2 linked regions of the Homo sapiens genome follow. Changing the gene in region 2 together with the main gene of any one other region gives a genetic interaction. Each region holds a gene or a part of one and is shown on either strand. Other genes may lie near its edges.

Region 1 (3,174 bases), on a different chromosome or scaffold from region 2:
GTAAACAGATTTTGCGCAAAGGAGCAAGGAAGGGTTTCTTGCCTGGCAGTGGTTGACAGTTTTTCTTTTGCCTCATGTAGCTCTTGAAATTGGGGCTGACCTCCCATCTAATCATGTCATTGATCGCTGGCTTGGGGAGCCCATCAAAGCAGCCATTCTCCCCACTAGCATTTTCCTGACCAATAAGAAGGGATTTCCTGTTCTTTCTAAGATGCACCAGAGGCTCATCTTCCGGCTCCTCAAGGTGAGTGGTAGGAGGGTTCTAAAGGTAGTCCAGCTATACATCTTGCCTTATTTACCTGTGTATGATCGTTTTTTCCTGTGAGGCTGACTCTTTTTCTTTGGTTTCTGGGGAGCAATTTCAGTGAAGTTGGGAATCTTGAGAACAAAAAGGTAAATGCCAGTAGTAGCCCTAGAAACCTTTCAAAACAAACCAAACCTCATGAGAACTTTGCAGAAGGTTTCATTTAGGAAGTTACAGCAAGGATCCATGAGGCTGTTTGGGTGTTGATACTTTCATGGCATAAGAGGGCTTTTTCTTTTTTCTTTTTTTTTTTGAGACAGGGTCTCACTCTGTTACCCAGACTGGAGTGCAGCCATACCATCTCAGCTCACCAGAACCTCTGCCTCCCAGGCTTAAGCGATTCTTCTGCTTTAGCCTCCTGAGTAGCTGGGATTATAGGAATGCACCACTACTGCCCGGCTAATTTTTGTATTTTCAGTAGAGACAGGTTTTATCATGTTGGCCAGGCTGGTCTTGAACGCCTGACCTCAAATGATCCACCCGCCTCGGCCTTCCAAAGTATTGGGATTACAGGCGTGGGCCACCACGCCCGGCCAAGGGGGCTTTTTATAAGTTTACTGAAGCCTCATGCTGCCTTTGTTGGTATTGGGACAGACGCTAGAGAACTGTTGGTCTGGGCCAGGTGCAGTGGCTCGCGCCTGTAATCCCAGGACTTTGGGAGGCTGAGGCGGATGGATCATCTGAGGTCAGGAGTTTGAGACCAGCCTGTCCAACATGGTGAAACCCCGTCTCTACTAAAAATACAAAAATTAGCCAAGCATGGTGGCACGCACCTGTAGTCCCAGCTACTTGGGAGGCTGAGGCAGGAGAATTGCTTGAACCTGGGAGGTGGAGGTTGCAAGTGAGCCAAGATCACGCCATTGCACTCCAGCCTGGGCAATAGAGCGAGACTCCATCTTTTTTTTTAAAAAAAAAAAAAAAGAGAACTGTTGATCTGGGCCTTATTTTACACTAGGGCTCTTTGGCCATATACCATAATATTCCAGAATCTTGGTTTGAGGGCTGTGTCTGATGGTCTGACTTTTCTCACAGTTGGAGGTGCAGTTCATCATCACAGGCACCAACCACCACTCAGAGAAGGAGTTCTGCTCCTACCTCCAATACCTGGAATACTTAAGCCAGAACCGTCCTCCACCTAATGCCTATGAACTCTTTGCCAAGGGCTATGAAGACTATCTGCAGTCCCCGCTTCAGGTGGGTCTGGAGTGCACTTAGAGGAGGAAGGTGGGATGGAAAATGTTTCTTGAGAATATATGCCTCCAAATCTTACTAAAACTCAGAAAGCAGTGGAAAGTTTTTGATATTTTAGTGCATTGTCCTTTGCCAGAAACTGGCTAACTTTGTCCTTTTCCTCATTCATCAGCCACTGATGGACAATCTGGAATCTCAGACATATGAAGTGTTTGAAAAGGACCCCATCAAATACTCTCAGTACCAGCAGGTACTGTGTGGTGCCCAGGGTGAGGAAAGCACAGGGCCAGCATGACCTGGGGAGGATGGGATTACAACCATGGGATATTCTCTCCTCCCTCCAGGCCATCTATAAATGTCTGCTAGACCGAGTACCAGAAGAGGAGAAGGATACCAATGTCCAGTGAGTGCTTTCCCCTCAATCTCAGGGACTTGCATACCTATATCTGTATATGCCAAGTCTGCTTGACTCTTCCCTTTCTTTCTTAGGGTACTGATGGTGCTGGGAGCAGGACGGGGACCCCTGGTGAACGCTTCCCTGCGGGCAGCCAAGCAGGCCGACCGGCGGATAAAGCTGTATGCTGTGGAGAAAAACCCAAATGCCGTGGTGACGTGAGTAGCAACCTGCTTGCTGGGAAGTTAGTCCTCATTGCCAAATTTCCTTAACATCTCTCCTTACCTTATTGTCTCTGTTTCAGGCTAGAGAACTGGCAGTTTGAAGAATGGGGAAGCCAAGTGACCGTAGTCTCATCAGACATGAGGGAATGGGTGGCTCCAGAGAAAGCAGACATCATTGTCAGTGAGCTTCTGGGCTCATTTGCTGACAATGAATTGTCGCCTGAGTGCCTGGATGGAGCCCAGCACTTCCTAAAAGGTGCCCCCAGGTTGGGGTGTAGGTGGAGGGTGATGATGGGTGAGACAGCAACCTGGGAGGAGGGTACAGGGTTTAGGGGAAAGTGGGTTGGACCTGGGTCACATCATATGAGTTTGAGAGCCACTGCTTCACTGCCTCTGTGCCCCTAGCAAATGAAGTCATCTCTCCAAACCTTAGTGTTCATATTTGTAAAATGAAGGGAGTGGGCTGGGCGCGGTGGCTCATGCCTGTAATTGCAGCACTTTGGGAGGCCAAGGCGGGAGGTCAGGAGTTTGAGACCAGCCTGGGCAACATGGCGAAACCCCATCACTACTAAAAATACAAAAATTAGCCAGGCGTGGCGGTGCACGCCTGTAATCCCAGCTACTCGGGAGGCTGAGGCGCGAGAATCACTTGAACCTGGGAGGAGAAGGTTGCAGTGAGCTGAGATTGTGCCACTGCACTCCAGCCTGGGCAACAGAGCGAGACTCCATCTCAAATAAATAAATAAATAAATAAATAAATAAATAAATATGACATATGTACCCTGAGCTTAGCTTTCATCAGGAACTTTTGTGGGACTTTGTGACCCCACAAAAGTTAAGAACCACCAGATTAGACTATCTTGGGTTCTTTCAGTTTTAATCTGTGTGACTCTGTAAATTAACCTAGTAGTGGAATCCTCCATGACAGTAGTTGGAAGCAGGCTGGCTTAGTAATGTGACAACATGCATTTGTCTCTTTCTTCCATGCCCATGCCAACGTTGGTTGGTTTTGACATGGGAGGTTTGATCCTTCTGATCCTTCAGTTAGTACAGACATACCA
Region 2 (3,500 bases):
GCTGCCAGTTTGTTAGTTTTTTTTTAGTTTTTGAGGTTTTTTAGAGACAGGATCTTGCTCTGTTGCCCAGGAGGGAGTGCAGTTGCAGTGGTACAGTCAAAGTTTAAGTTTACTGCAGCTTTGAACTCCTGGGCTCAATTGATCCTCTTGCCTTAGCCTCCCAAGTAGCTGGGACTACAGGCGCGTGCCACCACACCAGGCTAATTTTTAATTTTTTTGTAGAGATGGGGGACTTGCTATTTTGCCCAGTCTGGTCATGAACTCCTGGCCTCTAGCAGTCCTCTCATCTTGGCCTCCCAGAATCCTGGGATTACAGGTGTGAGCCCTTGTGCCTTGCCCATTGTTCGTTTTTAATTAGATTTTGTGTGAATATCTTTGAAGGGATTTCTAACATTTTTTATATACGTATATATTTTAGAATTTTTATCTTGACACATTGACCTTTACTAGAGGTTCAATTTTTGACTCTTGGCAAGTAGCAAGAATGGAGTTTTATCTTTAAAATTCAAACATAATCTTTACTATAGAAGAAAGAGTTTTAGCAGAGGTTTCTCTGAAATTTACACACAAAAAAAAAAAAAAAAAAAGAAGAAAGAAAACTTTCGGAATTGCCCCTACACAGACTTCTGGTTTTGATACTTATAAACCAGCTTATCTGCTGAGTATATTCTTTGGTTTCATACAATATTTTGTTTTGAGGGAAAGCTAAGGTTCATTGTGCTGTGAGAAGTAGAACTAACGTAAGAAGTTAAAGATTTCTGAGAACGTGCAGACATAATTTAGGGTTGTATTTTTCTGAGTGTTTATGATTTTTGCAGAACCATTGACTGATGACTTTTAACTCTAGCTCACAGAAATCTATCCTAAATTCTGTAACATATGAGAAATTTTCTTTTTTCTTTCATACTCGTTACCTTAGGGAACCAAACAGTTTGTTTGGGGAAGATAATGGAGAGATAAAAAGAGGCCTGGATGCTAGCTTTCTATATTATATTTTTCAGATGTCATAAACAAAGTTTACCAGAGGAAATTTCTTCCTGTCTAAATACAAAGTCTGAAGCTCTGAGAACAAAACCAGATGTCTGCAAAGCAGGGTTGCTCTCAAAGTCCTCTCAGATTGGAACTGGAGACTTGAAAATTCTGACTGAGCCAAAAGGCAGCTGTACTCAGCCTAAGACAAACACTGATCAGGAAAACAGATTGGAGTCTGTTCCACAAGCATTGACTGGCCTTCCTAAGGAGTGCTTACCTACAAAGGCTTCTTCTAAGGCAGAATTGGAAATTGCCAATCCTCCTGAACTGCAGAAGCACCTAGAACATGCACCTTCCCCATCGGATGTTTCAAATGCACCAGAAGTGAAAGCAGGTGTCAATAGTGATAGCCCTAATAACTGTTCAGGAAAAAAGGTAGAACCTTCAGCTTTAGCTTGCCGATCACAGAATTTAAAGGAATCTTCAGTAAAAGTAGATAATGAAAGCTGTTGTTCAAGAAGCAACAATAAAATCCAGAATGGTGAGTGTTTCTCAATATCTTTATTGGTAGAAGGTAAGAAATGGTAGATATATATATCTCTTTCTTGTCCTATGAGAAACTATGTGAAAATGACTTTGTAGAAATAGTTTATACAGTCAGAAAAGTTGAAAGAAGGTATAATTCCCAAATCTCAGAAACGATTACTGTTAATATTTTGGTGTACCTGGTTTCATGTATATAGAAATACAGATAAACTGTATTACACAAATGGGTTCATGCCAATAATTTTACCCTGTGAATTAGTGTAGGTGTCTATTAGTATTTTAAAGCAAGGATTCCATTATGTTCATTTACCATAGGATTTAACTGGTTCCTATTAGGTGGGTAATTAGGTGGTTCCCAATTCTTAGGTTAAGAAAATTTTGAAACAAAATCTAAAGTAATCTGGTGTTTACTTTATTTCAGCTTGTCACTGATCTTTCTGTTACATCCAGGTTGGAGTAGGAAGAGGTGATCTGTGACAGGTAGCTAAGATTTGAAATTTTAGAAAAGATGCAGAATTGTATCATTTCTGGAAAAAGGACTTGGGTTAAAGATGTTACGGATAGGGCTGAACTACCAGGAAGAGTCTCTTTGCTTAAGGGGAGGTCCTGCTGCACCCACAATTTAAAACTACTCTTCTTATGGGGAAATTGGTACGTTGTACTTGATGCTACTTATATGAAGTTTGAGGATGCATTATAATGGTGGTAGTTATCAGAAGCTCTGTTACTAGAGTTAGAAGAACAAAATGTTTTCAGCATGTCAAAAGGTTTAGAGCTATTAGAATTTAAAGATGCCTTTTGATCACTGTTAGCTATGTGGGAAATTGATATGGATTTTGTTAATGTTTTAGGCTGGGCATAGTAGCTAACACCTGTAATCCTAATACTTTGGGAGACCACTGTGGGAGGATTGCTTCAGACCAGGAGTTTGAGACCAGCCTGGGCAACATAGTGAGACCCCATCTCCACAAAAAATTTTTTTAAAAATCAGCCAGGCATGGTGGGGCACACCTGTTATTCCTAGCTACTGGAGAAGCTGAGGCAGGGGGGTTGCTTGACCCCAGGAGTTGGAGGCTGCGGTGAGTTATGATTGTACCACTGTACTCTAGCCTGGGCAACAGAGTGAGAGCTTGGCTCAAAAAACAAACAAACGAAAACAACCTACGAAAACAATTTATTTATTTGGATCAGTAAAAATGAATATATCTACACTATCTTTTTAACTGCAGGCCTCTGTGAAATTAGAGGGCAAGATGGCTGGATTTGACTTGCGAATCTTTTTAGTATAGCATTGGAAGAATAGAAAGAACTTTCTTTGCCTAGCAATACTTCTAACCTAGCTTCTTCATTGAGGCTTAAGTTAATATAGCTGTTAATTTGCATAAAATTAATTGCATAAGATTATCCTGTTCTCAGAAATTAGGTAACACTCAAAAGAAAGTACATATTCATAACCATATCCTTGTTCTATTTGTTGTTTTTGAATCATCAGCTCTCACACACAGCTAGTTTTTGAAGCAAATTTAATATTATGTGACGAAACAGTAAAGATTCTAGTGCAATAAGCACATGATAGATACACAAGTGAGTTACGGAGTCCAGCTTTGTCTCATTTAATATGTTATGTAGCTATTCCCCATCTAATGGATTTTAAAAGAAGTGAAAAACTTACATCCTGGAGTAGCACATCCTGCTATCTACTGTGACTTTTTTTTTTTGGTTGAGGTGTGAGAGTGTGATCAGAAGCCTACCGGGACTTCTGAGCTGTGTCCACTAGTACTGCATGTTAGTACAGAAGGCTTGGAAAACTTTTCTGCTCCTTTCTTCCACTTGGGGTCTAGAAAACAAAAGCAAACTGGAGTCAAACAGCTGCCTTTTTTTCCGTTCAGATAGATACGTGGCTCCTCGGAAGTGGGCGTTGCATTTTTCTCTTGACTTGGCTTTGAATTCAGAGAATCACTGATGGTAGCACCTGTTGCTCT

The links.
Region 1: changes in KDM3A (region 2) and PRMT5 together harm fitness more than expected from each alone (negative genetic interaction), as found in Homo sapiens cells (one large-scale study listed by BioGRID).

Annotation. Positions count from the first base shown.
Region 1 is NC_000014.9:22,923,203-22,926,376, reverse strand, and holds part of PRMT5 (protein arginine N-methyltransferase 5), read left to right. Parts: intron 1-80; coding exon 81-244; intron 245-1,336; coding exon 1,337-1,498; intron 1,499-1,667; coding exon 1,668-1,745; intron 1,746-1,839; coding exon 1,840-1,898; intron 1,899-1,935; exon of another isoform or gene 1,936-1,984; coding exon 1,985-2,107; intron 2,108-2,193; coding exon 2,194-2,369; intron 2,370-2,969; exon of another isoform or gene 2,970-3,174. UniProt on the Homo sapiens protein: Arginine methyltransferase that can both catalyze the formation of omega-N monomethylarginine (MMA) and symmetrical dimethylarginine (sDMA), with a preference for the formation of MMA.
Region 2 is NC_000002.12:86,465,371-86,468,870, forward strand, and holds part of KDM3A (lysine-specific demethylase 3A), read left to right. Parts: intron 1-1,001; coding exon 1,002-1,513; intron 1,514-3,500. UniProt on the Homo sapiens protein: Histone demethylase that specifically demethylates 'Lys-9' of histone H3, thereby playing a central role in histone code.